Homo sapiens: one gene and its partners. The protein of the gene in region 5 purifies or fractionates together with the protein of the main gene of each other region. This does not show direct contact. Each region holds a gene or a part of one and is shown on either strand. Other genes may lie near its edges. The genes, in order: RNF146, MARK4, BRINP1, RASSF8, PARD6G and CDH5.

Region 1 (4,241 bases), on a different chromosome or scaffold from region 5:
TCTCAACCCTTTCACCAACTTCAAGGAGCCTACAACTTCAATGGCATCAAAGAAGGCTATGTTCATTTCCTTGCTGCAGCCTACGCCAAACAGAAAACTGCACATTTTCATACACTCCCTATATATAGGACAGGAGGAGACAATTTACTGCTCCAACATCATTACTTTTTCTTTCAAGTCTCTATCACACTGACTTTAACATACCCCATAATCCCCTAAAACTGCTCTCTCACCACCTGTAAGGGATTAATGTCATCTTTTCACTACTGATCATCCTCTTCATCCTAACTCCTGACATGACTATCAGCCTATTTAAATAGCCTTGAAAATGAACCATCCAACACCTATTGCACAGGTTCTTAAACTTGTCCCAACTTCTATTCATCAGAATCACTGAAATTGCTTGTTAGAAATACATATTCTCAGCCCCTTTCCTTAGAAATTCTAGGCCAGTAGACATAGGTTTAAACCTAGGAATCTCACCCCAGGTGGTACTCATGCTTTAGTCCTTCAAATACAATCTGAGAAACACCATCCTCAATTTTCAGTTCCTTAAATCCTAAATTTGAAGAAATTAATCTACTCTCCAGCAACCAAATATTATAATCACATTTAAAGCTAGTTGTCACCTAAACTGCTGCCTCTCTGAAATCTTAATCCGACTCTCAGATCACAAGCTCTGGTTCTTCCAGCCTACTCATTCCCACACCTGCTCTTCAATTTCATGGGGACCTACCATCTCTTGACCATCTCCTTTCCTTTATCCAGTTCCTGATCTCATTTCCTTTCCTGCCCATTCTGGAACCCAATCTTTTTTACTTCTTAACAGAACCCTTGGCCCCCTCATATCTTTATCTCATATACACACATTTTACAAACCCCCATTTCTGCATAATTCTTACAATATGACATCTCAGGTTTCATGTCTTAACTACTTTGTGTTCATGGAGAAAAAGAGAAAGTCCTTTCTCTCACCACACAGCCCCCTGCTCCCCCACCCCAACCAACCACACCATAAATTCTGTCAACTTTTATTCCTAATCCCTTTGGAATCTATCCTGTACTCTCTACCCATTGCTAGTGCCCTAGTTTAAACCTACATAACTCTCACCTGGACTATTGTTCAGCCTGATTATCTTGTGTCAGTATCACCCTCATTTATTAAGCCTTTGAGTGAGATTCTCTCTCTCTCACTCTCTCACACACACACACATACACTCACTCTACAGTCTGTTTCCCAGGCTAGAATGCTGTGGCATGATCATAGCTCACTAAAACCTCAAACTGCTTGGCTCAAGCGATCCTCCCATCTCAGCCTCCCAAGTAGCTAGGACTGACTGATATATTTAAAAGGCAAAATGGACCAGGTTTCTTCCATATGTGAAGCACAATATTGGGTCCTCAGCCTACACAATAAAGACAAAGCTCCTTAGGACAACATTAAAAGGTTTTAAAGATCTAAACTGTAAATAATTAGTCTCTAGTCTTTTTTATCTTCAACAACCACCCATAGATTAATAATCTAGTTGTATAAAATTACTCATAGTCCTGCAAACCTCCCTTTGTAGCTCTGTATTTCCTCCTGCCTGGTACGATCTATTCCCTTTTACAGCTTATGAATGCCTATTTGTTCTTTAATATATTACACAGAAATGGTTATCTCTACCATTTTCTCTGACTACCTCCAGAAAGTTAACTGTTCTCTCCTCTATGTTTTGTATGTTTTTCTATTACGGAATTTATCACATGCACTAATTTCAATTCATTTGTGAAGTCTGACTCTTCTGTGAAATCATGAATCCCCTGAAGATAGGGAGATTTTTATATCTTTAAATAGCTAGTAAATTGTCAATCAATTTTTGTTGAACTGATATTTTTTGGATGAATGAAAAATCAACTCCTAAAAGTAACTATTGTGAGGAACAGAATATCAAAGGATTAGATTTATTCAAATAACACAACACTTGAGTTCTAATTGTGAACTCAAGCTGGAATCTGTAAGATACATAAAAATATCTAAGTTCTAATCCTTGCTTTATATAACTTAAAATCTAAAGGAGTTCCTACATTTACAAATATAAAATTCAACCCATCTTTGTATCTTTTGGCAAGCAAATCATTTACCCAGCTATTGTTCATTGTCAATGAATTCTCCAAAATGGAGATAAAAATCTAAGCATAAACCAAGATGGGTTTCTGAACAGCCAAAACAGCTTCACAAAGCTCTTTCCCCAATAAAGCTTATGATTCTTCACTAGGATGACCACATAGGTCAGCCCAGCATCTATCCAGTTTGCCCTTGGTCTCCCAACAAGTGTTCCAGTTCAGAAAAATTATACAGACATTCTACCCTTTACCCATCACAAAGGTTTTCGGACCATCACTCAAAAGTCAATTTGCTCTTACTTTACCCACAATTCTTTTGTTTTGTTTTGTTTTAAGAGACAGCGTCTGTTAACCAGGCAGGAGTCCAGTGGTATGACTGCAGGTAACTTAAACCTCAAACTCCTGGCCTCATGTGATGCTCCTACCACAGGCTCCCAAAGTGTTGGGATTACAGGTGAGGGCCACCATGCCCAGCCTTTACCCACAATTCTAACTTGAAGTTTTTTGGTCCACAAAGTCCTGCTGAGTGTTGCTGTTGGTCATTAGCACTGCCTATCCTTCGCTATCTTACAAGTCTTTTAAGATGTACCAATCCATCCTTCTCAGAACCTAATTGATTGAATGGTAAAACCTCTAGTGTGAAGATTCAATTAAAACATTTCTTCTAAAAATTTCGTTCAATCACTATTTGTACTTTAATAATTGAGATGTGTAGAAGGTACCATTTTATTCCTAAGAAATACACAAAAAATGTCCTTGTTTCTAATTCTCCTTATCTCCTGAATGCATTTACACATTATCTGTAACCAATCTAATTTATTCCTCTCTATTCACTTACTTTACTTAGGTCTTATCCATAAATATTTTATCTCTGAAACAAAAGTTGATTCTTAAAGGAATCTAAGTTAACTGAAACAAAGCAGCTTCAAAATAAGTACAAAAAAATCCTCTAAAGAACCCATATTTGAACACCCAAATAAGCTGTGATCTTTCCTATAAAACTATTTCACATAGCTGAAATAAAGCTATAGCCACAAATATTAAAGTAAAAGCTTTGCTACATATCCACTAGAACAAAGGTACTAAAAAAAAATCTGGTTAATTCAAGGAGATGCATTCTCTCATTCTGCTTTCCTTATTTGAAGACTAATGATTAAATTCAAGTAACTTATCAATAGCAAAATTATTTGAAAAAGCCCCTTATAAAGAAAACACACACACACACAAACCCAGGAGCAGAGAACTATTTACTTAATAGTACTGAAATAACAGCAAAGTATCTATGAATAATGACTTTCCATCAATATAAACTTTCTCCTTCAACAGAAAGAACATCCTTGCCCTCATTACACTCCTCTAGTCCAGTTATGTTCAGCAGTAAACAAAAGAATGTATCAGTGACCATAACTCACATTCGAGTATCTTTCTATACATTAATGCCATTTTCAAAAGAACACAGCCAAAGACATATTTATTTAGCCTATTTCTTCAATTTTTTTTTTTCTAATTCTGGCCTGAAGTCATTTCTAGGATTCCTTTAGAAATGGCTTTCTCTAATTTTCAAAATATTGATGATGTCATTTCTTTCTTTAAAGATCTTTGACGATAACCTCATACAGCTGACCTTTCAACAACACAGGTTGGAAATGAACAAGTTGACTTATATACATACAGTTTTTTCAATAAATATGTTGGAAATTTTTTTGGAGATTTGTGACAATTTGAAAAAACTTGCAGATGAATCATGTAGTCTTGAAACATCAAAAAAAGGAAAAGAAAAAATTAGGTATATTATGAATGCATAAAACATATATAGTCTATTTTATCATTTAGTATTATAAAATATAGAGAAATTATAAGAAGTTAAAGTGTATCAAAACTTAGTAAACACAGACACATATGGTGCCACTTGAGGTGGTACAAGAAATTTAAACAAATGTAAAGATGCAGTATGAATCATAGCTGTATAAAATTAATTGTAGTACATACTGTAATAATTTCCTGTTGCTATTATGAATTTCCACTTAAAATGCTGTGGACACTAATCATCTCTGCATGTATTGGAGTAAAATGTAATCTCTTGTTCTTGTGTATTTTTCATCATGTTTAGTACAATACCATAAACCTTGAATAAC
Region 2 (3,255 bases), on a different chromosome or scaffold from region 5:
CGTCACCCGCATCTCCAACGACCTCGAGCTCTGAGCCACCACGGTCCCAGGGCCCTTACTCTTCCTCTCCCTTGTCGCCTTCACTTCTACAGGAGGGGAAGGGGCCAGGGAGGGGATTCTCCCTTTATCATCACCTCAGTTTCCCTGAATTATATTTGGGGGCAAAGATTGTCCCCTCTGCTGTTCTCTGGGGCCGCTCAGCACAGAAGAAGGATGAGGGGGCTCAGCGGGGGGAGCTGGCACCTTCCTGGAGCCTCCAGCCAGTCCTGTCCTCCCTCGCCCTACCAAGAGGGCACCTGAGGAGACTTTGGGGACAGGGCAGGGGCAGGGAGGGAAACTGAGGAAATCTTCCATTCCTCCCAACAGCTCAAAATTAGGCCTTGGGCAGGGGCAGGGAGAGCTGCTGAGCCTAAAGACTGGAGAATCTGGGGGACTGGGAGTGGGGGTCAGAGAGGCAGATTCCTTCCCCTCCCGTCCCCTCACGCTCAAACCCCCACTTCCTGCCCCAGGCTGGCGCGGGGCACTTTGTACAAATCCTTGTAAATACCCCACACCCTCCCCTCTGCAAAGGTCTCTTGAGGAGCTGCCGCTGTCACCTACGGTTTTTAAGTTATTACACCCCGACCCTCCTCCTGTCAGCCCCCTCACCTGCAGCCTGTTGCCCAATAAATTTAAGAGAGTCCCCCCCTCCCCAATGCTGACCCTAGGATTTTCCTTCCCTGCCCTCACCTGCAAATGAGTTAAAGAAGAGGCGTGGGAATCCAGGCAGTGGTTTTTCCTTTCGGAGCCTCGGTTTTCTCATCTGCAGAATGGGAGCGGTGGGGGTGGGAAGGTAAGGATGGTCGTGGAAGAAGGCAGGATGGAACTCGGCCTCATCCCCGAGGCCCCAGTTCCTATATCGGGCCCCCCATTCATCCACTCACACTCCCAGCCACCATGTTACACTGGACTCTAAGCCACTTCTTACTCCAGTAGTAAATTTATTCAATAAACAATCATTGACCCATGCCTACTCCATGCCAGGCCCAGTGCTGGACACAGAGACATGAAGCTCTGTCTGTGGGAGACAGGGATTCTGACACAGACACCGGACAAACCATTGTCTTGGGGAGCCCAGAAGAGAAAGTGGGCAGGGTGGGGTCATTGGGGAAGATGCTCTAGAGGAATTAATGCTGGAATGGGGTGTTGAAGGATGAGTAGGAGTTAGTTAGGCATTGAGTTTGCCCTGGGCAAAAGCCCAGAAGTGGGAGTATGTGGTATATCTTCAGAGAACTGGGTAATTTCAGTGTGGCTGCTGTGTTGGGCATGGATGGAGAATCAGCAAGAGAAATGCTGTATTAGGACTAATAATCCATCTACGCTGCTTAAGCAAAAAGGTATTTGTTGGTTTATGTTACTTAATAGTCCAGGGGCACCTGGCTTCAGGTAGGTTTGATCCAGGCATCAGGCCATTGCATCTATTTTTTCAGTGTAAGTTGAATTCTAGTAATTTTTATCAAGTAAGGGCTCCTTTCCTGGTGGCACAGATGACTTCAGCAGTTAGAAGTTTCTATCCCTCCAGCTTTCTGCAGCAGAAAGACCCTCATTGTCAGTTTCCCAGCAAAAGTCCCAGGGCAGACTCTCATTGGCCCAAATGGGCCATGTGATTTTCTCTAAACCAATCACTGTGACTCTAGAGTGGCCAGACTCAGAGCTGCACTTAGTAGGGGTTCCTCAAAGGAAGGTCAAGTGTCATGAGCAGGAGAAAAGGCATGGGAGCTGGACAGATTATAGTGGTTGAAGTCTGTGCAGTACAGAAGGGCGGAGCTTATTCACACAGCACCTTTGGGGCCAAAATGAATAAGCTGGACTTTCTCCCCATGGCACTGGGGAACCATGGAAGTTCAGGGAACTTCAGGGAAGAGGCTTGGTCAATTCCTGAGAGCATCCTCTGTGCTGGGGACACAGTGGTAATCAAGACAGCCCCAACACTGCCCTCATAGAGCTCACAGTCCAATGGAGGAGGCAGATGTGTCCTCAGGCAGCGACTGGGCAGGGCTGGTATAGGGGAGTCCAGAGGTGATGCCTGCCTCAGCCAGGGAGGGCTTCCTGGAGGAGAAGGAGCCAGCTAGACATGGATAGGAGTGCGTTTTAGGCACAGCAAATGGCACATACAAGGGCCAGGGAGCAAGAGAGAGGACAGGTCCTCAACAAATGGCATGTGACTTTGTAAGTGTAGAATTGCTGTGAGGTATGGGGCTAGGGGCGTCAGTAGGGCCTTGAAGGTTATGGACAGGGGCCTGGGCTTTCTTCCAAGGGCACTGGGGGAGCCATGGCAAGGTTGTAGGTAGGGTAGAGATGGGCGGGTTTGTGCTATGTGCAGGGTGGAAGGGAGGGAAGTTGACAGGTCAGAAGATCAGGAAAGAGGTCGGGGCTGGACAGATGGGGAGAGCGCAGATAGATTTAAGAGAGTCCTGTGAGGCAAAGTGGGCAGGACCTGGTAACAGGTGTCTGGACTGTGGCTTTGGCTGGCTCAGAAGGTCCCCACTGGCGTGTGTGGTCTATGTAGCCTCTGGGTGTGGAGCTGGGATCTTCAACTGGGGACAGTACAGTAAAGAACATCACAGCATCTCACAGGTTCTGCATACCTTAATGTTTAGAATCTCTCCTAACCTTCCTTGTAGTAATCTCCCTGGGAACTTTTGGGGACATCCCTAGGCCTCAATTTCCCCTCTGTAAAACAGAGGGCAGATTGAACTACAAGGGCCCTTAATCTCTGTGACTCTTGAGGTTTGAAAAAGCACCTTAGGTTCCTGAGGGCTTTGTCGGTTCTTCCATTTACTCCCACCTCACTTTTTTTTTTCCCTAAAACGTTTGTCTTTTGGGGCCCACCGACTGTGTCCTTGTTAACGTAGACATTGGCCTGTTTGACTGGGTGGAGGTGATTGACGTGCCCAACACCCAATGCATGTTCAGCTACTGCTTGACTTCTATTAACTCTTCTCCCTCCACCAATTGCTCTACCACACCTCTTTCCTGTTCCTTCCTGGGACTGAGTTCTCCAAAAGGCCTATCCCTAAAGACTTCATGGGGATGCTCAGACTCACAGATTGGAGAGGGAAACAGCTTGGTCAAAGACATTGAGGTGGGAATTGGAGGGTGTCAGGTGTGAAAGAATCAGAGGAGTAATGGGGAAAGAACTGGAAAGGTGAGCCTCCAGCAAATGGTATGCATTTCAGTGTGGCCTTGAGTTGCAAAATAACAGAAAAGCTTTCT
Region 3 (4,241 bases), on a different chromosome or scaffold from region 5:
GATTGCCAGCACCTAGCAAGATTCATCACCATACCCCCCAAGTCACTTTGTCCAAAGCCTTTCCACGACAAGATATGCAATAAATATTTGCTGATCCAAACTGAAAACTTCCAGCTTTCATTCTTTTTCACAACACTTCATTTAAATTACTTTATCCCCACATATTCATTCTCTCCTTCCTTTTCTATCCATTTCCCCTACTCTTGTTTCTCCTCCTCACTTTACACTGTTGTATCTCCAGGGTATGGCATTCAGAGTAGGAGTAGAAATTAAAATGAGAAAACTTGTAGAAATTACTGATTAAAAATGGACATAATAAAAACCCATCAAAAGTACTTGACAATGACCTTCTGTCAATTCTCAAACTCTCTTTAGTCCTCAAACTACCTGCCTTCCAACCAGAGATGTCAAGGAAAAGATGTCAAAACTTCTCACTCTCCTGTACAGGCCATTGTGATCTGCCCCTGCCTACCTTCCTAATTCCCTTTTATGTCATGTTCCCAATTTGAAAGCTTCAGCCACACTGGCAGGTAGTCCATCTCTTAGACTTCCTAAGCTTGTCCCAGTGAAATGACTCCGTGGCTTGTTTGGTTTTGTTTTGTTTTTTGAAACAGGGTCTTACTCTGCTGCTTGCTCAGCTGTAGTATAGTAGTGCAATCACAGATCACTGCAGCCTCAACCTCTCAGGTTCAAGTGATTCTCCAACCTCGGCCTACGGAGCAGCTGGGACTACAGGTGCCCAGCTGTTTTTTTAAAGATGATTATTATTGTTGTAGAAATGGGGTCTTGTTATGTTTCCCAGGCTGGTCTCAAACACCTGGGCTCAAGCGATCCTCCCACCTCAGCCTCCTAAAGTGCTTTGATTAGAGGCATGAGCCACCAAGCCTGGCCAACTCCATTTTATTCTTCTCTCTGCCTCTAATGCTCTTTCCCCACAAAATTACATGGCTGATTCCTTCTCATTTAAGCCTCAGTTCCAACATCACTTTCTCAGAGGAGGCTTCTCCTGGCTACTCAATCGAAAATTATACCATCCACATTCCTTTCTACCACATTACCACGACTAGTGGTGTGACATTTAATATTATATAAAATTATCTTGCTTATCTATTTGTTTACTCATTGATTATTCATCTCGCTCCTCTAGAGTGTGAACTTAATGAAAACAAACAAGGCCATGGCCATGTACATGCTACATTTCTAAAGCCCAGACCTGTGCTATTCAATAGAGTAGCCATGAGCCACATATAGCTATGTAAATTAAAATAAAAATTAATATAAGTTAAATAAAATTAAATATTCAGTTCATCAGCAACACTGGCCACATTTCAAGTGTTCAGCAATCATACATGGTTAGTGGCTACCATATTGGACAGCACAAAAAACATGTCCATCATCACAGACAGTTCTATTTGACAGCTCTCGTCTACAGCAATGTTTGGCAAACAGTAGGCACCCAATAAATATTTGTTGAATAAATCCTCACTCAATTTCAGGTCATCCCTCCCTTTTTTTTTTTTTTTTTTTTGGTGGCATCGAAGCCCTAAAAGTGAGGTAAACTAGACAATTTCCCTAGGACAGTATTCAGGGTGCCAAGAGGCCTCCAAGCAGATGCTACAGAAGACAGGGCTGTGAAGACAATCCCCTCTATTCAGAAAGAAAACTGTTGTGAAATAATTATGTTTTCATAATATTCGAAGAACTGAAAACTGGAAGAGAATTGCACTTGTGTGATTTCAGAGACATATGGATAGAAGGATGATTTAGGGGCAAAGTAAGAAAATATTCCAACAAAGCTCTTCAAATATGACATAGGCTGGTTTGTGCGGTAATGAACTTGCTATCACTAAAAGTACTAAAACTGAGACTGAATGGTCATGTATTATTGGCATTACAAAAAGGACTCGTCATTCCTGAAAACAGAAAAGTTTGGTCATTGAGAAACCTTCAGAGGTTTTCTTTGATCCAGTGACTCATGACACCTTCATACCATCAATTTCAAAGAGCTCATAATAACTCCCAGCTATTCCTAGCACCTATTGAACAACCCGATGTTGCCAACCATTCATAATAGTTACCATTAACTCAGTGGTCCAGTGAAAAGAGCAGAGATGACGTAAGAAGGAAGACAGTTTCAAATTCTAGCTGTGATGGTTGTGTGACCTTGATCAAGGAGTCTAACCAACCTGGGCTTCACTTTCCTCTTCTGTAAAAGGGGCTGTATCTGTCCCACTGGGTGGAAAGAACGACTACATGAGAGAACAAAACTAAAGACCCTGGAACACAGGAAGTCAATATTCACTTCCAGGTAGGGTCTAATTTTCATCTGTCTATATTATCATTGGAATCCCCATATTCTTGGTATAGGCAAAAATGCCGTAACGGCATTGCTTTAAATGAACATGAAGCAATTGTTAGCTAGAAAGTGTGAGAGACAGAGAGAGAGATGACAGTTGCTATTGAGATGCAACAGGAAATGCAAGGGCAAACATTTATAAAGCAACTACTCTGTGTCAGTCCCTGGAATACAAAGATGCTCCTGAGACCATACTGAAGAGGGTAAGATAGACCTATACCCCCAGCGCTATAAAGCAGGGCAAACAGAGACACAAACTAAAATAGAGTTTCAGATAAAATGGTACAGAAAAATCAGGTGATAAAGAGATTAATTCCAAAATAAGATCTTGAGAAGACTTCTTGGAAGGGTCATTTGAGCTAGATGTTGAAATATGGGTGGAATTTTGTTAAAAGTCGTGGCTGAATGTGGGAGATGGTGGAAAGAATAATAAAGATAATCTTTGCAGAAGGGAGCACAACTGGAAAAATTATTTGAAGAATGACATTTAAGGACCTGTCTTCTTCACATGACCTCCATCTTGTCTTTAACATGGTTACCAGTAGTTCAGCAGCCAATTTGTTAAGCTTTGTATTTCAGCAAGGGAAAAGCAGGAAAAGACGGGTAGGGTATGTCTAACCTTAATGGCCCATTCAAGTGATAATGTACTGGTGATTTCCTCTAAGGAATTGGGAGGGGAAAAGAGACAGGTTGCAAATCAAAAAATGTCTCCTTGCACAACTGAAGGGGCCTTTGGGCAAAGACCTTTTCAGAAAAATAGAGGACTTTATGATCCATAACATAAACTCTTGCAAGCACTAAGAAAGAGATGTTGAATTCGAACCTATCAGGGGAGGGTGTTTTTACAATTCTTGCCTGTACCAGCGGCAAAGATACTCATTGCAGCCTGAGCTGGGTCGTCTAAACTCAACGGGGGCCCAAGAGCTGATTTGGCATCTCTGAGCTGTTTCTCCTTGGTTGAAATGGAGTCACAGCTCCCCCTTCTGGGAGCTAAAGTGCCATCTAGCCCCGGAAAATCCTGCATGGAAAAGGCTCTATTGCAGATGGGCCTAAAACCCCCATGTTTTTCAGTATCTGCCTGCACCCCGAAACAGGCATCTAGAAGTCTAAGAGCACGCTTTTGAGTGAACTCGATTCTGACTTCTCCAGGGTCTCTCTTTCACAGGGCTTTACATTTCTCCTTCCCTGGAGTTTATGGGTCCTACTCTTCACATGGGAGATGCTTTATATGGGAGAACACAATTTGGTGTGGAGGTTCTCTTTTTTGGAAATGTAGCAAGCAGGAAAGGTTTCTGGATCTTTGTGTGCACATGTGTGTATAAGCACACCTATGCATGTGTGCTTGCATATGCTTCTGTGCCTGTAATATGTATTAATGTCTAGGGGTGAGATTCTAATTAATATAAAGAAATTAATTTGCCTGAAGTATTTGCACTGGTAGATGGGTGTACATTTTGCTCTCTGGAAACCAGTGCATTCCTTAATAAAAATCTTAGATACAGACCAGACACTTTGCTGGGTTCTGCCTACCAGTCACACTCAGTACTGGGTCCTTGCTTGTCGGTAATTCCCTAAAGACATTGGAGAAGGAATCTATGTTCTCTCTCTGTCTCTCTCTCAGTCCTCCCCCCACCACCGTGTGTGTGTGTGTGTGTGTGTGTGTGTGTGTGTGTGTGTGTGTGTGTGTGTGTGTGTCTTTCGGGAATAGTGATTGAGGCATTGGATCTTTTCTCTTCAGGGCCATGTTTCCAGATAGAAAAACCCTGAAATGCATCTCTGAAAATGTGAAGTTTGATGAGGGAAGACAAGCGATTGTCTTGGTAGGGGTCATGGTGGCAGGTTGGCAAGATAGGGGTGGGAGCAATATACAGTCCTAGAGTGTATA
Region 4 (4,085 bases), on a different chromosome or scaffold from region 5:
TAGTGACTTAACTAAGATTTACAAGTAATATTTAGACAGATTCAGTCAGACACCACTTAGCCATTTTTACATTCCCTCTGGTTAGATTTGGTACAGTATAATTAAGACTTTAATCTGAAATTTAAAGTAGTTTTAATTCTGAAGAAGTTACATCCTCTGTATTATTTACATGCAACAAAATAAAAGTGGATTAATATAGTAATGCCATGGTAACAATAGAGCTATGTCTTATGCATGAAGGCAACTTTGGATGTTTTAACACATTTGACTGACTTTGGTTTAGTGAATGCTGACAATGCTGCTCTACTTAGGTTTCCTATGAAATTTTTAAGAATGGCTATGAGACTGTATAGAAGCTTCTAGAGAACTGAAAGTCATAATGCAGAGTTGCCTTTTCTAGTGCAGCTAAGTGGCGGACCTCAACTGAAGATATGAGTTTCTTTGGGTTCTTGGAGTTATCAAATTGATCTTGCCATTATGTTACTTTGCAAATAACTGAAGTAAATGATTCTTACCTAAATAACCACAACCTGTACACATTTGCTCACAATTTATAGTAGTTATTTTCTATCTACCTATATTTAAAATTAGGATGATTAAAAAATAATTTATAGATTTTGTGACAGTAATGATTTACATATGCCCAATATATGCCTTATTTTTAAATAAGTCATTCTGTATAAAGTCATTTTGTTGTTGTTCAGAGAAATCAAGATCTTATTCACAAAGAAAAACATTTTATAAATTGATCGCATTTTCTTTAAGTCAAAATGTTAAACTGGAGGCAGTATTAAACTTTGCAATTAGGAGTTTCAGAGATGCCTTGGCATACCACGAAAAACACTGTCAATATCCAACTCATTATAAATTGTTATCAGAATTAACCTAATAACTTTAAGTAAGGACAAGCAGCATCCTAGCAACTTGTAGTAGTCTTGGGTTCCCAGCAGAGTATCACAGTTAACCTCTCTGACAACTTCATCAGAATTTCCAAGCTGCCAAATAATCTTCATAGACCTAATTACAGATTTAAAAAAATTTCCTAGGCGACGAAAGTATAGAAATGTGAATATGTTGAATACATTGAGAAGCTGTACTTTTTAATTAGTTATATTACTTCTGGAAGCACATATCTAAGGAATATTTTCTAAGACTCAGAGGGAAAAAAACTCGTTTTCATAGGATCATCTGAAGATACTTTAGTATATTTGTGATCATTTTTATCTATTGCAAATACAAATGAATTAGATAAGTGCCACATCCTGGATACATTTCGGAGGGGTAGTGGGCAATGGTATACAAAAATACCAAATATAAAATTTTCATCTGGGGGAATGTTCAGGTTCTAAATACTAAATTAGATTTCAATGTTTTGTGTTTTTTTTAAAAAAATCATATTGCAACTTGTTTTATTGTGATTTTCTACAAGTATTAAATACATTTAAAGATCTTTTTATCTTACCAAGAAATAATTTGGAATAGCATTGGTATATTTGACCTTTTGAGTGTCTGTCATCCTCAGAGAATGGCCCATAGTGTGTTGCCTGTGGACATAGTGTCCATAGTCCCTTTCTTGTCCTTCTGAGATATTTTGGTTTGATAACATTTTGTTTTTTGTCTTGATGCACAGGGACTTTTTTATAATATGAGACTTCAGTTGGTATTAATAGGAGTTACCTATTTAATTCTCCCAGTCATCAATGAGGTAATCATCAATTCCTATAGTTCAAATTAGTCATAAACAAGAGCTACAGCAAGACTGATAGAGTAAAAACTATATAAATACAGTAAAAAAAAAATAGAATTTATGGTGTGAAATATGAAGTATAGCAATATATAACAAGAACATGTAAGCACTTGCTTCCACAGCATAAATGTAATTTACATCTGCATTAAAGGATAATTTTCTCTGTGAATAAGAGCAAAATGGTCTTCAGAGAAACAGACTGTTCATTTGAAGCCATTTCTGTAAACATCTTCCAAGATAGAACTGTAATGGATTGAGGAAATAACACAGAAAAGACAAAAACTTTTGATTTCAGGCATGCAAAGTGCTTGGGCAGATGGACAGTTCCCATTGTGCATTGCCTTTGATAAATTTGGCCTTAATTTATATAACGATGCTGTGTTCACATCCCTCTCCTACCTAAAGTTGTCTTTATTGGTTTATATTGTGTTAAAATTAGCTTATAATTATTACTTTTGTATTGTGTTCAGTTTTTTAAGTTGCATGTTTATACTATTTGCTACAGTATTTTTAAGTTTGGGGTGAAGGCCATCAGCTGTATCAAAAAGACAAAACAATCACTATTTATTCAGTATTGCTGCTTTACATCTCCAGAATAAGCTTTCGATGCCAGGACAGTGACTGCCTGAAAGCTGCAGGAGCTCTTTTCAATGCATTTTATATATTTTTAGAAACCAAATAAATGCAGAAAACTATTTCGTATACTAATTATATTAAACCAGCAGAAATATAAAGGCAATAAAGTATATACATATATATGGGGGGAGGGGAAAGATTAAAAAATAGATTTACAGCCAGACATGGTGATAGCCCTAAATGTATTTCTCAATATGTTTTTCTTTATTGACCCTAGGAGGATTTGAGTTGCTGCAGCTTTAAACAGAAAATTGCCATGTTCACTAATTGTGAGCACATAAATATGCTTTTAGTACTGCTTTGCTTATGTACAAATAAATCTGTAATATGTATTATATGTAATTATCCTTTTCTTTGACTTTCATTTTAAATGTATATTTTCTGATCATTATGAGCTGTAAAACAAAGAATCAATATTGGATATTCTCCCAAATAATAAATTTTCAGGATTCATTGGGGCATTACAGTTGTCAGTTTGTTTCTTACATCCTTTATATTTTTAAATACAATTTTACTTCCTTTAAAAGATACCAAAGAGAATAGTGGCACATATCACTACACATAATTACATTTTTCATATATACTTAAAGAATCATCTACTGCTCCAAAGATGGCTTCATCAAAGTAAAACTGAATTAAGAAACTACTATGCCTTTTATTTCAAAAGTGAAAGAAGAAATGATATCTTAATGAATCTCTGTATTCCCAGATTTCCCTAAAACCATAAGTGAGAGGAAGAGAACTAACATTTCAGTCCCTACTACGTGCCAAGTGCAATATGGGGCACCGGTCACACTTTAAACATTCACAGCCATCCAAGGAACTGCTCCTAAATCACACAACCCCTAAGTAACTGACATAGCATTTGAACTTAGATGTTTCAGACCTCAAGGCACTTTTCTGTATTCCATGGTAGAGATGCATGAGCTTTACGGTGCCCAGTTTCTGCATTTTAACCACTTTTTAATGTGGAAGTATATAAATTGTCATTTTTATAGGAATATTTTTATAAGAAGTTAAACCTTTACTTAGAAATTATACATGAGGGCCGGGCGCAGTGGCTCACGCCTATAATCCCAGCACTTTGGGAGGCCAAGGTGGGCAGATGACTTGAGGTCAGGAGTTCGAGACCAGCCTGGCCAACGTGGCGAAACCCCGTCTGTACGAAAAGTAAAAACAAAATAGCTGGGCGTGGTGGCGGGCACCTGTAGTCCCAGCTACTCAGGAGGCTGAGGTGGGAGAACCACTTGAACCCGGGAGGCGGAGGTTGGAGTGAGCCGAGATCGCACCACTGCATTCCAGCCTGAACAACAAAAGCGAGACTCTCTCTCTCTCTCTATACACACACACACACACACACACACACACATATATATATACACATTATGTATACACACACATATATATACACATACACACACACACACACACACACACACACATATATATATATTTAGCCAAAGTAGTATTTATTGAGCCAAAGTAAATTTCCTAGTAATTTCAACTTTCTTTAGGGCCACATAGAAGAAACAATTTCCCATCTATATATATAGAGAGAGAGAGAGAGTCTCACTCTAAAAAAAAAGTATATATATGAGAATAATAGTACGTTATAAAAGCAAAGATGAAATGAGAAACTTAAAGTCATTCAAAATACCAATAAGTCCTAGTTTGGGGGACTTTTAAAATGTTAATTATCCAC
Region 5 (4,241 bases):
TTTATAAACCACCCAGTCTGTAGTCTTTCTTTACAGCTATGTGAGAATGGACTAATACATATACCAACTTCCAAAGCAATTTCCTTGTATCACTATATGGCTTTCGTTTAACTGAATACATAAGATAATTTAATCATGTCTAATGCAACTAGTAAGAGTGTTTTTGAATTTTATATAATTCTCACTTCAGTATCACCGCAAAGGGATACAGCTCACTTTCACCTCAGGAACGCCAGGCCTCCCTGAAACAGCATAGGCTAAATGTTAGTTCTACAATGTTTCAGTCTTAACTTTATTTAGCAACTAACCTAAAACACATCTCAGTTTCTCAGTACGTTCAATAATTTTCTCAAAATATGTCTTAGCATGTTAACTTGAAATGAAAAATAAATTCAGACTGTTTCCTGAGAGAAAACAAGGTTGATTTGTGTTTAATGATGAGGCTGACTTTGCCAACCCAGCTATATGGTAAACATGCTTCATATGTTGAATGAGCTCCAAAGTTTTGACAAAAAGAGATGTGAAATGTGACATGACAAAAGCATTGTATTTAAAAATCATATTGGTATTGGGTACTAAATATTTTTATTTCCCCATGATATCAGATTAAACAAGAGTCCTCTAAATGAAGGAATTAGCAGGTATAATTCATTGTCACATACTTCTTGGTAAAGTCCTTCCAGTATACTTACCAGAAACTGAAACAGTGAATGGCTCTAATGACCAGGCAATAAACCTTGCAAGTCAAGTAGTTTCCAATTACTTGCTTTTGACAAAATATAAAGTTGTCCTAACTGAACTGTCAGCTAATTATCAAAATAATTTTGAGAGACCACCCTATTATTTTTGTCACACAACCTGTTGAGAGTTCAAAGAACTGAGCTGTGCTTAGGGGCCTTCACTCTCATCTACCTGAGTGTGCAAATGAAGCTTCACAGTGTTGACACCCAACAATAAAAATTGCAAAACAATTAGTGCCAGCCTACCTCATTTATCAATAAATACTTAACAGTAAATGAAAGATTCTTCAAATGTTTATTTGGATGGCTAGTGATTATCAATAAATACTTAACAGTAAATGAAAGATTCTTCAGATGTTTATTTGGATGGCTAGTGATTATCAATAAATACTTAACGTAAATGAAAGATTCTTCAGATGTTTACTTGGATGGCTAGTGATTATCAATAAATACTTAACAGTAAATGAAAGATTCTTCAGATGTTTATTTGGATGGCTAGTGATTATCAATAAAGACTTAACAGTAAATGAAAGATTCTTCCGATGTTTATTTGGATGGCTAGTGATTATCAATAAATACTTAACAGTAAATGAAAGATTCTTCCGATGTTTATTTGGATGGCTAGTGATTATCAATAAATACTTAACAGTAAATGAAAGATTCTTCCGATGTTTACTTGGATGGCTAGTGATTATCAATAAATACTTAACAGTAAATGAAAGATTCTTCAGATGTTTATTTGGATGGCTAGTGATTATCAATAAATACTTAACAGTAAATGAAAGATTCTTCCGATGTTTATTTGGATGGCTAGTGATTATCAATAAATACTTAACAGTAAATGAAAGATTCTTCCGATGTTTATTTGGATGGCTAGTGATTATCAATAAATACTTAACAGTAAATGAAAGATTCTTCCGAAGTTTATTTGGATGGCTAGTGATTATCAATAAATACTTAATGTAAACGAAAGATTCTTCAGATGTTTACTTGGATGGCTAGTGATTATCAAATTGCACAACTATGTTCCAATCACCATTTGATAATACTTGTTAATAACTCAATCTAGAAATTTACTATAACAATCTATTTCATTTATAATTGTGGTAAAACACACATAAAATTTACCATATTAGCTCTTTTTAAGTGTACAGTTCAGGAGTGTACATTCACACTGTTATGCACCCACTCTCTAGATTGCTTTTCATCTTGCAAGCTAGAACCCTATACTAGTAAACAACTTAAAAATATTTTTAACAAATAGAGCCCCAGGACCACAAGAGAAAAATATTTGAACTTCAATTTATACATATTTTTTGTTGCAGAGAAGAGTAACAGGGGTAACGAAGCATAAGTTATTAGAATAAAATATTAGGACAAAAATCTCTTGAGGGAGTAATGGGAAGAAGAAATCAAAGAGAAAAAGAAACCATGTATAATTTCTGATTAGAAAAGAGCTCTTCAGAGTCAGAAAAGTGGCAAAAATAAGAGTCTGTTTATCCTATTTTAAAATGCATGATAGTGGTATCAAATCACTGCAGCATTTAGATTTCACTGTATCAAATCACTGCAGCATTTAGATTTCACTGTATCAAATCACTGCAGCATTTAGATTTCACTGTATCAAATCACTGCAGCATTTAGATTTCACTGGCTGTATTTAGAAGATCATGCACCAAAAACTTTATTTGTAATGGAATATTTACAGCATGCTGTAAATTACATCCTTTGCAAACTATTTATATTTACTAAAAAAAATTCAGGTACCAACTTAAAAATATATCATCCCCTTTTATAGTGGTAGTTTTTCAAAATTCTTTCAGGCTTCATGTGACATTTGAAGACCACAACATCAGAGTTCAGGGATCACTATGAAAATGCCTAAACCACCATTAAAGGTTAGCAGGAGACTTGGCACTCCCTAATATTTTCATTGTTTTTCATGTGGGTGTTTGTTCGTATAGCAGGACTTACAACAGGACGGCTGCTTCAACATCTGCTGGGCTTCATTCATTCACCTACTATCCCGCACATAAAATGCCTCAAAGGGAGCCATCCTATCCCGGGAGGTCATCTCCTCACTCCAAACCAGTGACCAATTTCAATGAAAGATCAATACTCAAGCCAGGCATGGTGGTATACACCTGTAGTCCCAGCTACTTGGAGGCTGAGGCAGGAGGATCACTTGAGCCCAGGAGTTCCAGGTCAGCCTGGGCAACATAGCAAGACCTTGTTTATGTTAAAAAAAAAAATCAAATTTCCTAAAAAAGATTGCATTGCTGTGCCTGGCCTAGGTTAGTAGCAAGTTAATAGATAACCCCATCAAAAAGTCCACATTGGCCAGCGATGGCTGATGTCTGTAATCTCAGCACTTTGGGAGGCCAAGGGAGAGTCCGAGACCAGTCTGGCCAACATAGTGAAACCCCATCTCTACTAAAAATACAGAAAAACTTAGGCAGGCGTGGTGGCACACGCTTGTAGTCCCAGCTACTTGGGAGGGTGCTCCAGGAGAACTGCTTGAACATAGGAGGCAGAGGGTGCAGTGAGCCAAGATTGCACCACTGCACTCCAGCTTGAGTAACAGAGTGAGACTCCATCTCGAAAAAAGAAAACAAACAAACAAACAAAAAAAAAAAACACACCTTTCCCTCACCAGTACCCTGACACTATGAGCTGTATCATTTCCCCTTAAAAGGACCCATGGTTCCGAGGCAAAATGGCTAATTCCAGGTATATGGCAAGAAATGTATGTAAGCCTATGAATCCCATGTTTATTTTTAAAGAATAAGATTATTTGTTATTGGGAAATACACAGGTGTGCAAATTCTTATTCTTCAATGCTTCTAGCTAAATGAACCCTCATTCATTATTTAGATAATGATTATTCTATTTTGTAGTTGACCCCAACTATTATTCCTACAACAGGATAGTAAAAAACGGGGTTGGGGGAGATTTCATCTTTTAAAATTATTAAAAATTATCTCAAATACAAAATACCAAGATCAATAAGCAAAAGCGTATCAGCATCTGGCTAGGTGTGGTGGCTCACACCTGTAATCCCAGGACTTTGGGAGGCCAAGGCAGGTGGATCGTTTGACTCTAGGAGTTTGATACCAGCCTGGGCAACATGGGGAAACCATGTCTCTACAGAAAAGTACAAAAATTAGCCAGGCGTGGTGGCACACGCCTGTAGTCTCAATCACTTGGCAGGCAGAGGCAGGAGGATCGTTTGAACCTGGGATGTGGAGTCTGCAGTGAAGTGAGACTGCACCATTGCACTCCAGCCTAGATGACAGAGTAAGACCCTGTCTCAAAAAATACAAAGTGTATCAAAAGCTTCTAAATGCAAATCATTTTTATTTTCTTTAAAATGTATTCAATGATAACATCATTATACTATAAATAGAAAATAAGAAATGTCCATCTATCACCTATATCATATCAATCTCTATTAATCATATCTATCTATTCCCCCAACTCTAACTTCTTATCATAATTTTG
Region 6 (4,241 bases), on a different chromosome or scaffold from region 5:
TTTTTGTTTCTCCTTTGATCCAAGGGTTTATTTAAGAGATTGACTTGATTTCTTTATTTTCATTTATAAGTCATAGGGTGTTTTTTTTGTTTTGCTTTAGCTTGTTCTGTGATGTGATACAATTGTATTTGTGTCCACTTCTTCCTAGAATATCTAAGTTTTGACTTTATGTATTTAAATTTTTCTATTCAGTTAACAAAGGTTTGCAACTATTTTACCTTCATTATGGTTTGTAACTTTCATCCAAATGTAATTAGCCAATTTGTTCTGCTTAAATATTTTGCCTTTAATTCTGTTTCCTGATGTTACATTTGTTAGTCCTGTTTTCATGTTATTCATATACGCCTAATGCAAATTTTACAACCTTTACTTTTAATTTTTCCAGGTCATTTGGCATTAAGTTGTCTCTTGAAAACAAGAATGCATTTGGCTTTGCTTTTTAATCTAAACTGAAATGCTTTGTGTTTAACCTATTTACATTTTTCATCATAATTGATATGTTTGATGTTCCTTCTTTTATCTTGTTTTACATTTCTCATTTATCAAATTTAATGGCTTTTTTCTTTTTCCTCATCTTTGCTATACAGTCTATGTTTCTTTATTTTTTTTTTCTCCTAGATATTTGGATGAGGTGCATCCATTTTTATTTCTACCAGTGAGATTTACTTCTATCTGCAAAATTTAAAATGTTTTCTTGGACCTATATTTTCTAGTTAAAACTATTATAGACATACACACACCCATTGCTTTTCTATGTATGATAAAAAAAATCAATAGTTTTGTTTTAATTCTTCCCATGCCAGGTTTTTACTTTATATTGAGATGTTTAGTTAGATACAGTAAGTTTTCAAAAAAAAATTCAGGACACAAATATCTTAGTTCTTTGCCTTTTTTGGGGGGTGGGGGGGACAGGTTCTTCCTCTGTCACCCAGGCTAGAGTGCAGTGGCACAACCATAGCTCACTACAGCCTTGAACATCTAGGCTGAAGCAACCCTCCCACCTCAGCCTCTGAGTATCTGGGACTACAGGCACACACCACCACACCAGGCTAATCTTTTTTTTTTTTTTTTTTTTTTTTTTTTTTTTTTTTTTTTTTTTTGGTGAGACAGGGTCTCACTCTGTCACCTGGGCTGGGCTGGTCTTGAACTCCTGGCCTCAAGCAAACCTCCAGCTTCAGCCTCTCCCAAAGCACTCAAATTACAGATGTGAGCCACCATGCCCAACCTTGCCTTCTAATAACACCTAGATGTATTCGTATAATCCTCAGATTATAAACACTTCCCTTCAAAAATACTATCAATGTATTCTAGTATTTAATTTTGTGGGGGCATCTGAGGCAAATCTGATTTTTCTTTCCTCATAAGGAAATTATTTCTTTCTGTCTGGACTCTTTTCAGTTTCTTCACACAGCCTTGAAATTCGTAAGTGTCGTCAGGATTTGCCTAAGTATTGGGGTTTTTTTCAATGATGCCTGATGTCAATGACATCTTATAATGTGTAGACTCAAGCCTTTCTTCAGATCAGGAAACTTTTCTTTTCTTTTTTTTTTTTTTTTTTTTTGTTATTTCTTCTGTTCTGTTTGTTCTGGGATTTTCCTCATTAATAGCAACTATTATTCCTATATACACAAAACATATATATTTATCTTTCCATAGATTTTTCCTGATTTCTGAAAGAACTTTTTAAGTTTTTTATTTCACAAAGTTAATTTCTTTGTAATTACTTCTTATCTCTTCCAGCTCTTTTTGTATTCCTTCCTGGCTCTTGCCCAATGATCTTTTCATTAATCACTAAAACAAGTCCCAGCTATGGTGTGATGTCACCTGTTCAGCTCTGAAAGTGCATCTGATGGTCTCAGGTACCACCTCCAGTCCAGTGATGGCAATGTAACTAAGATCAAAGACATTATCTTGCTATCCTGAATCCCTCTGTGTAGGTCCACTCTTGTCTGAGTGGCAGAGTGCAATGAGCAGTGAGAGAGGGGCATGGAGTGGGATGCAGGGGACAGATGCAGAAGGGCCTTGTCCATCATGCTGAGGAGTGTAGACTCAGCAAAGAACAATGGAAAGCCATGAAACTCTCTCCCCTGGGCAGATACTCCATCCGCAGGACCAGTGACAAGGGCCAGTTCTTCCGAGTCACAAAAAAGGGGGACATTTACAATGAGAAAGAACTGGACAGAGAAGTCTACCCCTGGTATAACCTGACTGTGGAGGCCAAAGAACTGGATTCCACTGGTGAGTGGCCACATCTGCCAGGGCACCTGGATTCTTTTCCTTTTCCCTCATTCTTCCAAAACTGGCATAATCAATAATTTGGGGTCTCTAGACGTATTAGAAGTGCCTGCTGAAGCACCCGCTGGTTGGGATGCTATAGAGCTCCCATGCCCAAGTGTGGTCCTTGAACCCAGCAGTATCAACATCCCCTGAGACCTTGTTGCATCTCGGGCCTCACCCCCACACTGAATCGGAATCTCATGCATGTCACAGTTTGAAAACCACTGTCATGAAACAGGCTGTGCAGATGTCTCTGTGACGAGAATCACCCAAGTCACCTATTAAGCATAAAGCTCTACTCCACCCTGCAGGTTCTGGTCCAGTGAGCCAGAGATGTGCATTTAACAAGGGTCCCATGATTCTTAGTTATCATGGCTGTTTGGGAAATGTTCCTTCAGAGGGTGTTTATGCACCAGTTAATAGGTAGAATTCAAAATGTGAAGCAGCTTCCAATTTTGAGATTGTGAGTTTCTCTAGAAATTGTGTAATTTTTGCCAGAGGGAGGGGCAAGAGTTGGAGTTTTGCATCCTCTATCTATATTAGAAAATCACAATCACCCTCCAGGAGAACTATTAATACTCCCACTTTACCCAGGAGCCCGCTAGGCCAAGGATCCCTGGCGCCTGCCGGGCCCACCCAGACTCACTTCTGCCAACACAGCTGCTGCCCCAAACTGTAATGGACTCCTGCATGTTTGGCCAGATCAGTCTTTGCTTCTTTCTCCTCCACATAATCCCATTCATAGACTCTTTACATTTAAATGGTTTAAAATACGGAAAATACAGAAAATGAGAAGAAAATACTCCTCCCACCAATGCCACCATGCAGAGACAGTTACTATTAGCACATTCATGTATTTTTATTTTTATACATATTTTTATACTTACATGAGATTGTAATGTTTGTGTAAGATATTATATTCCACATTTTTACTTAACCTTTACTTAACCTTATTCCAGAACCACTTTCTCATGGTACTAATTTTTTTTTTAAGAGAGAAACAGGGTCTCACTCTGTTGTCCAGGATGAAGTGCAGTGGCACGATCACAGCTCACTGCAGCCTCTAATTCCTGAGTTCAAATGATCCTCCCACCTCAGCCTCCTGAGCAGCTGGGACTACAGGCGTGCACCACATTGCCCAGCAAATGTCTTAATTTTTTTTGTAGAGATGGGGTCTCACCATGTTTCCCAGGCTTGTCTCCAACTCTGGGCCCCAAGCAATCCTCCCTTCTAGGCCTTTCAAAGTATGAAATTACAGGGGTGAGCCACAGCACCTGGCCTTAAAATTTTTTTTAATTATATGTTTAAGATGTAAGTGACATAGGCATTGTCAGTGGCCATCCATTTCAGTCTTTTCCGGTAGCCTAGTTTACTGACCCAATCTCACTTAGGTTGTTTACCTTTTCAATTCTTTTATGATTAATTTATTATGTTTTATGTATTTAATCAAATAATTAAATTTTTAATTTTAGGAATTTAATTACAATTTTTTTAATGCACTTAGGTGGTTTACCTTTTTGATTCTCATAATCAAAGTAATACCTCAGTAAACCTTATGGATGAGATTTAACACCTCCCCCCACCAAACTCCTTTTATCCAGAACACCATCCTGGGCCTCTGTTCCACAGCCTCCTCCTGCAAAAAGTGGCCTCCATAGGGCAGCCCTCCTTCCACACATCTTCCACCGCCCAAGGCCAGCATCAGCTGAGCCCATAATGGTGACAGTCTTCTCCCCTGCAGGAACCCCCACAGGAAAAGAATCCATTGTGCAAGTCCACATTGAAGTTTTGGATGAGAATGACAATGCCCCGGAGTTTGCCAAGCCCTACCAGCCCAAAGTGTGTGAGAACGCTGTCCATGGCCAGGTGAGTCTGGTTCAGGTGGGAGGGGAAGGCAGCACCACCCTGGGGCAGGCTGGGGGGCAGAACTGCTCAACAGAGTCAGCAGGAGTTCCCCTGTACAA

What was found.
Region 1: the proteins of PARD6G (region 5) and RNF146 purify together in Homo sapiens (affinity purification with western blotting; one study listed by BioGRID). This does not show direct contact.
Region 2: the proteins of PARD6G (region 5) and MARK4 purify together in Homo sapiens (co-immunoprecipitation; one large-scale study listed by IntAct). This does not show direct contact.
Region 3: the proteins of PARD6G (region 5) and BRINP1 purify together in Homo sapiens (affinity purification with mass spectrometry, with the first as the bait; one large-scale study listed by BioGRID). This does not show direct contact.
Region 4: the proteins of PARD6G (region 5) and RASSF8 purify together in Homo sapiens (co-immunoprecipitation; one large-scale study listed by IntAct). This does not show direct contact.
Region 6: the proteins of PARD6G (region 5) and CDH5 purify together in Homo sapiens (co-immunoprecipitation; one study listed by IntAct). This does not show direct contact.

What each region holds. Positions count from the first base shown.
Region 1 is NC_000006.12:127,273,131-127,277,371, reverse strand, and holds part of RNF146 (E3 ubiquitin-protein ligase RNF146), read right to left. Parts: intron 1-4,241. UniProt on the Homo sapiens protein: E3 ubiquitin-protein ligase that specifically binds poly-ADP-ribosylated (PARsylated) proteins and mediates their ubiquitination and subsequent degradation. May regulate many important biological processes, such as cell survival and DNA damage response.
Region 2 is NC_000019.10:45,302,677-45,305,931, forward strand, and holds the end of MARK4 (MAP/microtubule affinity-regulating kinase 4), read left to right. Parts: coding exon 1-34; 3' UTR 35-2,608; downstream 2,609-3,255. UniProt on the Homo sapiens protein: Serine/threonine-protein kinase. Phosphorylates the microtubule-associated protein MAPT/TAU. Also phosphorylates the microtubule-associated proteins MAP2 and MAP4.
Region 3 is NC_000009.12:119,362,511-119,366,751, forward strand, and holds part of BRINP1 (BMP/retinoic acid-inducible neural-specific protein 1 precursor), read right to left. Parts: intron 1-4,241. UniProt on the Homo sapiens protein: Plays a role in neurogenesis and brain development. May suppress cell cycle progression in postmitotic neurons by inhibiting G1/S transition.
Region 4 is NC_000012.12:26,070,026-26,074,110, forward strand, and holds the end of RASSF8 (ras association domain-containing protein 8), read left to right. Parts: 3' UTR 1-2,844; downstream 2,845-4,085.
Region 5 is NC_000018.10:80,205,760-80,210,000, forward strand, and holds part of PARD6G (partitioning defective 6 homolog gamma), read right to left. Parts: intron 1-4,241. UniProt on the Homo sapiens protein: Adapter protein involved in asymmetrical cell division and cell polarization processes. May play a role in the formation of epithelial tight junctions. The PARD6-PARD3 complex links GTP-bound Rho small GTPases to atypical protein kinase C proteins.
Region 6 is NC_000016.10:66,393,964-66,398,204, forward strand, and holds part of CDH5 (cadherin-5 preproprotein), read left to right. Parts: intron 1-2,095; coding exon 2,096-2,238; intron 2,239-4,018; coding exon 4,019-4,143; intron 4,144-4,241. UniProt on the Homo sapiens protein: Cadherins are calcium-dependent cell adhesion proteins. They preferentially interact with themselves in a homophilic manner in connecting cells; cadherins may thus contribute to the sorting of heterogeneous cell types.